Homo sapiens: one gene and its partner. The protein of the gene in region 2 purifies or fractionates together with the protein of the main gene of each other region. This does not show direct contact. Each region holds a gene or a part of one and is shown on either strand. Other genes may lie near its edges. The genes, in order: CERT1 and RUBCNL.

What was found.
Region 1: the proteins of RUBCNL (region 2) and CERT1 purify together in Homo sapiens (affinity purification with mass spectrometry; one large-scale study listed by BioGRID and IntAct). This does not show direct contact.

The regions. Positions count from the first base shown.
Region 1 is NC_000005.10:75,400,130-75,403,954, forward strand, and holds part of CERT1 (ceramide transfer protein), read right to left. Parts: intron 2,930-3,825; coding exon 2,843-2,929; intron 169-2,842; coding exon 76-168; intron 1-75. UniProt on the Homo sapiens protein: Shelters ceramides and diacylglycerol lipids inside its START domain and mediates the intracellular trafficking of ceramides and diacylglycerol lipids in a non-vesicular manner.
Region 2 is NC_000013.11:46,370,085-46,373,909, forward strand, and holds part of RUBCNL (protein associated with UVRAG as autophagy enhancer), read right to left. Parts: intron 2,514-3,825; 5' UTR 2,392-2,513; coding exon 1,857-2,391; intron 1-1,856. UniProt on the Homo sapiens protein: Regulator of autophagy that promotes autophagosome maturation by facilitating the biogenesis of phosphatidylinositol 3-phosphate (PtdIns(3)P) in late steps of autophagy.

The DNA of each region.
Region 1 (3,825 bases), on a different chromosome or scaffold from region 2:
CAAATAAAAGATATTTCCACCAACAATGAAGAACAATACAAGGTGTACTTTTAGTAAACTCTGACATTAGCTTACCTTTTGGACAAATCTATGTGTCCCCACAGAAGAAAAGGCATCTCCAGAGGGCAAGGATGTAGGCCAATGTAATCTCACCTTTTCACTCTGTGACTAAAAAAACATATAATATTAAGATGGGAAGGTTTTAAAGTGTATTTTGTAACTCAAGAATGGATAATATAACCTGGAACTACCAACATTCACTTAGTGAACGCCTTAGTGCTTATAACCATTAGAATTATGAAACTACTCCGCAGACATGGCAAATCCTGATACTTGCCTCAGATATCCCAATTTAACCTCTTCTTTCTGACTCCACAGATACTATGTTAGGCAAGGGATAAGTTCGTTGATTTTGCTCCTAGTCAGACTCCCTGCTACCTGCATAGCATTATTTATCATGGGTCAATCTTAACGCTGCTGCCAATTCTCTCCTATCCAAACCCTGGCCAAATCATTCCAATGATTCTACCTTAGCAGGCCGCCCCTGGAAGGCTGACTCACAGGTTTATATATAATTAGAAATAATATCATTGTTTGCTTCAGTTATGTTCCTAAGAACATATCATGTATATCTCTTTGCCTCCTCTCCATGAAGGTATTCTGCCCTTCATCTCATCATCTTACTCCTGTTAAGCTGCCACTTGCCCTTCTTCCTCTTTAGTTTGCCTCAGTTGTTCTCATTTATTTCAACCAACTGCTAAGATCTCATTTCTCATGCACCAGTTTATCCCATGTATCTTTCTTTCCCTATGTTTGCAAGTAACGTAAACTCAAACATGTGTGATGTAAGTGTCACTTGGAGAATATCTATTTAATGGCTGTGTTGTTGAGAGATCTGTGCAATATACACTGAATATGAAGAGGGAAATGATCTAAATCTATGGAACTGATTTTATGGATTACTGAAGCTCTCACTACTCTATAGAGTATTACCACACTGTATCTCTGTCATATCAACATGCCTGGCTCTTAGGCAAGAAAAACAATGCTCTGTTCAATGACTATTTTGCAGAGCATCTAGTACAGTGTCAAGAATAGAATGAAGTTGATTGGATGGCCCCATGAATATTTCTTTTTCTAAAGCTTACGGAAGGGTTCATCAATTCTCTCAAACCCAACTCAATCACCATACTGATATTCAGTAGAGTAGCATTTTAGAGAGAAGAGATGTTTTGAATCATCTTGTCTCCTTTGTTTCACAGATTAGAAAACCAAGGCCCAGAGAATTCAGTGATAAGTTCATAGCTACAAAGTTAGTTAGAGGTAAAACTAAGAGTAAGACTGAGGTGTCTTGACTCATTCACTACTTTTTCCCAAAACAGCACATCCTAGACAAAAAACTAAGGGAAACAAATAAATAATGCTACTTCAGGTAGTACTTTAGGTTTCCAAAAGTAGAGCCCATTTAGGAACTAAAAGTTCCCACTCTTCTTGAGTGGTACATAGCATCTTTTGGGTATAAAAAAAATGAGCAATAAGCTTTACAAATTAATGTGACATGAACTTTTTATCAGTAATTTTTAAAAAAATAACGAAAGATACACATGAGAAGCAGTTACTACTGCAGGTGATTTACCCTTAGGTAGACCAATAAGAGCATAATAGCCATGACTGTCTTAGCAATGATAAGAAACGAACAAGCCAACTTTTCTATGCAAATTCATTTGTAGTATAAAACTGACACATACATGATTATTTGGCAAGATACTCTGTAGCCACAGTTTATTAATACTTGCCCCCCAAAAAGGTTAAGCTTCCACCATAACTAGCATAGCTTAAACAAGGGGAGGAAATAACAAAATTCATCCTTAAGTACCATCTAGTTGTAACGTATGGTAACTGTACTGTTGCCAAATTAAAGAAGACAAAGTATCAAATTAATCTTGAAGCTAGTTAATGGGTTTAAGAAATACTTTTCTTCAATTTCCACAGCAGCTGGGTGTAACTGCTATACACTCAATAATGATGACAAAACACTGAACAAAGCAAAAGTGAGAAAGAAACTGAAGGTGAAGTAGTGAAGGTAATAAAGGGGTTAATAAAAACAATACTAATATAGATGAAAAACCTTAAGTTTTTGGTCATCTTCCTTTTCATATCATACTTGGTGAAGAAAAATTCAAAGAAGCTTTTTACTTAGACTAAATATATGCTTTATATTAAAAGAATGTTTTAAGCTGGACACTTAAAGGGAAATAAGCAAAAAGAGCATTTCTATTTAAGTTCATGTTAATTACGCATGGTTCCTTTTAACAATTATTGGTTTTCTTTCTATTGCTTGGAAATTCACATATAAAGGAACTGACTTATAAAGATTATTTTACGGCCAGTACCATGGCTCATGCCTGTAATCAATCCCAGCACTTTGGGAGGCTGAGGCGGGTGGATCATGAGCTCTGGAGTTCGAGACCAGCCTGGCCAATATGGTAAAACCCCGTCTCTACTAAAAACACAAAAAAATTTAGTCAGGCACGGTGGCGCGCACCTGTAGTCCCAGCTACTCGGGAGGCTGAGGCAGAAGAATCGCTTGAACCCAGGAGGTGGAAGTTGCAGTAAGCCGAGATCGCGCCACTGCATTCTAGCCTGGGCAACAGAGCGAGACTCTGTCTCAAAAAAAAAAAAAAAGATTATTTTACATTTGTGACTCAATGTATTCACAGTTAAGCTTCTAGGTTATTAAGTTCACAATGTTCAAATTCTATTTACATGAAATAATATACACCAAGGAATGCCTATAGTGTTAAAATAAATTTCAGCTTAGAATTTTCAATAATAGATATACCTGTTCTTCTATTTTATCTTGTCTGTCAAGAGCAGCTTCAACAGCATCAAAGAACTCTTCTTCATTAATCAGACTGTTAGGGCCTTCCTATTCCAACACACAGTGGAGAAAAAAGCAGTTTATTTAAAGAAACAGAAAACTCTGATAACTCTGGTATTAACTTGAGTTTGAAAATTGACCTAATAAACATTTATTGAACACATATTTACAAAGCAGTCAGTATACTAGATCATATGCATGCTCTGTGTAAAATCACGAGTGTTACAATTAATTCACTCAGTACTCATATATTTACTTACTGTATATTGACCAATATTGTGTTGGGATAATAGTCTAGAGCAGAGATTGGCAAAAACTATGGCCCAAGGGCCAAATCCAGTCTGCTGCCTACTTTTGTACAGCCTGTGAGCTAAGAATTTCATTTTTAAATGGCTGGAAAAAATAAAAGTAATAATATGACATGTGTGAATTACTTGAAATTAAAAGTTTGGTGTCCATAAAGTTTTACTGGAAAACAGTGATGCTCATTCAGCTATATATTATCTAGGGCTTCTTTAGTAGCAGAGTTGAGACTTATGACAGAGACAACAGAGATATAAAATTGCAATGAGGTAAGTAAAAATTTGCACAAGAACTATAGCTAATAAGTACGGCTAGGCATTCAGAGGCGGATCTTCCTAAGCACAGGTAATTGTTTCATGGGGAAATAAAAGTTGAGTTGATGCTTGATAGTCTGGCTAGATGGCAGAATAATGGCCATCAATCACTTGGGGAATTGTGTGGGAGACTTCTTACAATGAAAATTCCCAGGCCTCCATGGCCAAAAATTATTTCTTAGTAGGTCTTCAGTGGAACCTTGGAATATACATGTTTAATAATTCCCTCAAGTGATTCCCATGCAAGTGGAACCTCAGCTGCATCAGAAGATAAACATACAAAGAACAATAACAAAATGTAAACAATCAACATATGTTCCTGCTGTG
Region 2 (3,825 bases):
AGGTCATAGTTTGCAGACTCTGAGTATAGAGGAAAGAGCACAGAGAAGAATCGGAACAGAGTGGATTCCAGTTCCAGCTGTCCGTTCACCAGCTGTGCCTCTGCATCAAAACGCTCTCAGCCCTTAAATTGGGATATTTATCAGGACACTAAGGAGATAAAGGAAGGTGAAAGTGCTTGTAAATGTGTAGTTCCTATGCCAACAAAATAAACTGTGGAATCCCTTCCTACAGCCTTAAGAAATGCTTACAGAGGCCGATAGTCTTTCCCTAAAGTATTTTCTGAAAAAAGAAAACCCTTTTGCCGCCATCTGAGATGCAGCGGTCATAGGAATGTCCACATCTTAGTGGCCAATGGCTGTTTTCCCTATTGCTGCCTCCGCACCAGAGAAAGAAAGAACCAGATCACTCAAGGCTTCTTTTTCTTAATCTTAAAGAATGAATCCCCTTACTGAGTTTAAGAGATATTCTCAAAACATTCCGTGAGTTGTTTCTAAAGGCACTGACAGGAGCTGTTGGGAGTCCTTGTCTTTGGGCAAAAGGGGCTGGGGTATCTGTTTTCTTTCTGAGTAAAAGAAAAAGCTAAAGGATAATTTTAAATTGTAGAACTACTTCCTGTACCATGATAGAATAAAAAGTTTCAGGCAAGGGTATGCTAGGCCCCAAAGATCATCTTCAGTTTATTATAACTTGTCATTATGGTGGTTCTCTGTTGGGGAGAGGGCTTTCCTCTATAAGACAATCTATTAAGACTAATCTCTCACTTAGCCACTACTAAATTTGCAAGTCACTCTTAATCCTTAGAACTATCCAAGCAAGTGAGCAAAAAAATAGGAAAAAAAAAAAAAAAAGGCCTGTAATCAGTCTTGTCATTTTGCTCAAACTTGGTCCTTATCTCAAAATTAACCATTGAAAGATTGTCCAAAATTTGTTCTTCTTAAGCAATGAATAAATGTGTTAAAGACTGTCATCATCTTTGATTGCTCAAACATTTCCAAAAGAACACATAAACTCCATATTTTAGGTAAGGGGGAAGATGAGCTCCTGCTAGTGAGAAATAAATATACAGAGAAATAGACAGGCAGGCAGCAGGCAGACTGATGACTTTTTAAATTGCTTTGAAAGAAAAAGCTTCATTGATTATTTATACTAGGGTTTGAATAGAAATGTAAATTAATAATGACAAGTGTGACTATAACAAATATTTTAAAATGAAATAAACATGTCACAGATTATAACAATAATAGCTAATTTATTGACTCTTGAGTAGTACTTCGCACGGATTATCCAATTTTTAGGAATTTTAGGGTCTTAGGAATATGTACATTACTTCATAGCAGTGAGAGCCCTTGTTTTAATAAAAAGGGGTTTTGTATAGTCTTCAGGGGAAACTGTAGTTATTGTTTAAAAATCTTACCATTTTCCTGTCAGATTCTATACAGGTAAATATAACAAGTGAAGTGACTTCACCACCTACTAGGTACTGGTGTGAAATGCAGACCCCGTGGCTGTCTGGAAACACCTCCAACCTCCACACTGACTTGAGAGTGCTTCCGATGCTCTCCCCTGTAGACAATTTAATGAGCTCTAAGTTCCTGAAGGCAGACGCCAGCTTAAAGATGGCACATGGCACTGATTATCAACTACATTAAGCTAAAAAGATAACAATTCTCTGCAGTCTAAGGAGAAAGCCAATATTTGATTTCACCTGTTGTGACCGCCCAGATGGCTGGGCTGCTGACAATATTAGATGAGGCAATGCATTGTCCCATGGGGAAGACAACAAGGCAGGCTTTAGAGCAAGGCGAAGCAAGGGTGTGAACAGAGAGGAATGAGGGAGGTCACCTACTAAAATTACCTTCATCAGCAGCAGATGTCAGATGGGAAGGCTCAAAAAAAGCACTGTCAGTCTCAGGATATGGGGAGGTGGCCAAAATCCCAGGGCTTGTGGGCAGAGACACCCGATGAGAGTATCCTGGGCGGACCATGTGTACCTCTGTTGAGGACAGAGAGAAGCTGCTACTCTTTTCACTCGAGCCATGGGGAGAAGCGCTGCCAACGGAGTCTGTGGTATCCTCAGACAACGTTGTCTCTGCCAGGGAGTCCCCGAGGCACGAAGGTGAAGGGCCTGAGGGAGAGGCAGCATCTGTCACAAAATGGGTCCCACTGTTCCCTGCTGCTGGCACCTGAGATTGCAAGTCCTGCGGCTGTTGCTGCACATCCTGGGGGTTAATCCAGACAGCTTTGTGCCTCATGAGCCTGATGTCTAATTGGCAAGGAGGATGGTCAGTGTTCAGGAGTCTGGGCGAACCATCAATAATGCCAGAGTGATCGCTGATCCCTTCCCAGGGCTCCACAGGAGAATCCTGCCTGACTGTAGATTGTGACACCATCTTTCCAGGCTTGTGGCTGGTGTGAATCCATTCAAAACAGATAGGAGTTCCCTGATTGCTGGTACTACTTGATTTGGGCCCTGAACTCACCACATGGCCAGCTGGGGGTCTGGAGAGCTATTCTGCAATGAGCAAGGAATCATTCAAAATAAGTAAGAATTCAATTGTATTTTGGCTACAAATTATTTTGAGATGGCAAAACCCAAAAAATTTAGAAGTCTGTACTTGGCTCTATCCAACATAGTAAAGCCCGCTTGGATTTATAAGTGAAAAAATAAATAAATCAGCCATAAAACTAGCAGTAAACCTACAGAGGCTTGACATTGGGAGAGGAAACATTCTTCAAAGCATAAAATTAAGAAATCACAAAGGATCAACTGATAAATCCCATAAAAATGTAAAACATCCATGCATCAAAATTATTTTAATAAAATTAAATGTCAAATCCAAGACAGGAATACTATCTGGAAGTAAAGACACATTTCCACATTTTCTTTCTTTCTTTTTTTTTTTTTAAACACAGAGTCTCACTCTGTCACCCAGCCTGGAGTGCAGTGGGGCCATCTCGGCTCACTGCAACCTCCGCCTCCCAGGTTCAAGCTATTCTGGTGCCTCAGCCTCCCGAGCAGCTGGGATTACAGGCACGTGCCACCACGCCTGGCTGATTTCTGTATTTTTAGTAGGGACGGGGTTTCACCATGTTGGCCAGGCTGGTTTCAAACTCCTGACCTCAGGTGATCCACTCGCCTCAGCCTCTCAAAGTGCTGGGATTACATGCATGAGCCACTGCGCCCAGCCATTTCCATATGTTCTTATTTTCATTTAGTTTGTTCTTGTGTTTCAACAAAGTAGGCAAAGTGGTACATAAAACAGAGGGATGATCCATAGCACTGAAGACTTTGCTTCATGTAACTTATATTACCTTTCATACTTATAATATCAGTATCAATGTATTCTCAGTTCATAACATTTAAAGAACACAGTATGAATCTAGAACCCATCTTTAAAACCCACTCACTTCTAAGCTCAGATTTTAGCTTTAGTGAAGACGTAATGATTAAAATGTTGAGAGCTACACAAACAAGAAGCACTCTTGTCACTGTAATTACAGGCTCGGGAAATGTTTTGCTTTTCTGTTCTTCCACTGCCCTCTGCATTGTGAAGCTAAAAGCAACTTTCAACAGCAAAAAGCAAGAAGAGACAGGGGAAGGCCTAGAGATAGAAGGGTGGCCTATGCCACATTCACCCTGCACAGTGGTGAACAGGAGACTTTGGAGTCAATTACAGGGCTGTAAATACCATTGCTGTGCATGCAGGCAACTCCCACATGTATCTCTATTTCTGATTTCCCGGCTAGCAAATCTTATTGCCTATTTGACATCTGTCCAGTGGGCACTGCAACCTGATACATCCAAAACAGTCACTCACTTCTCC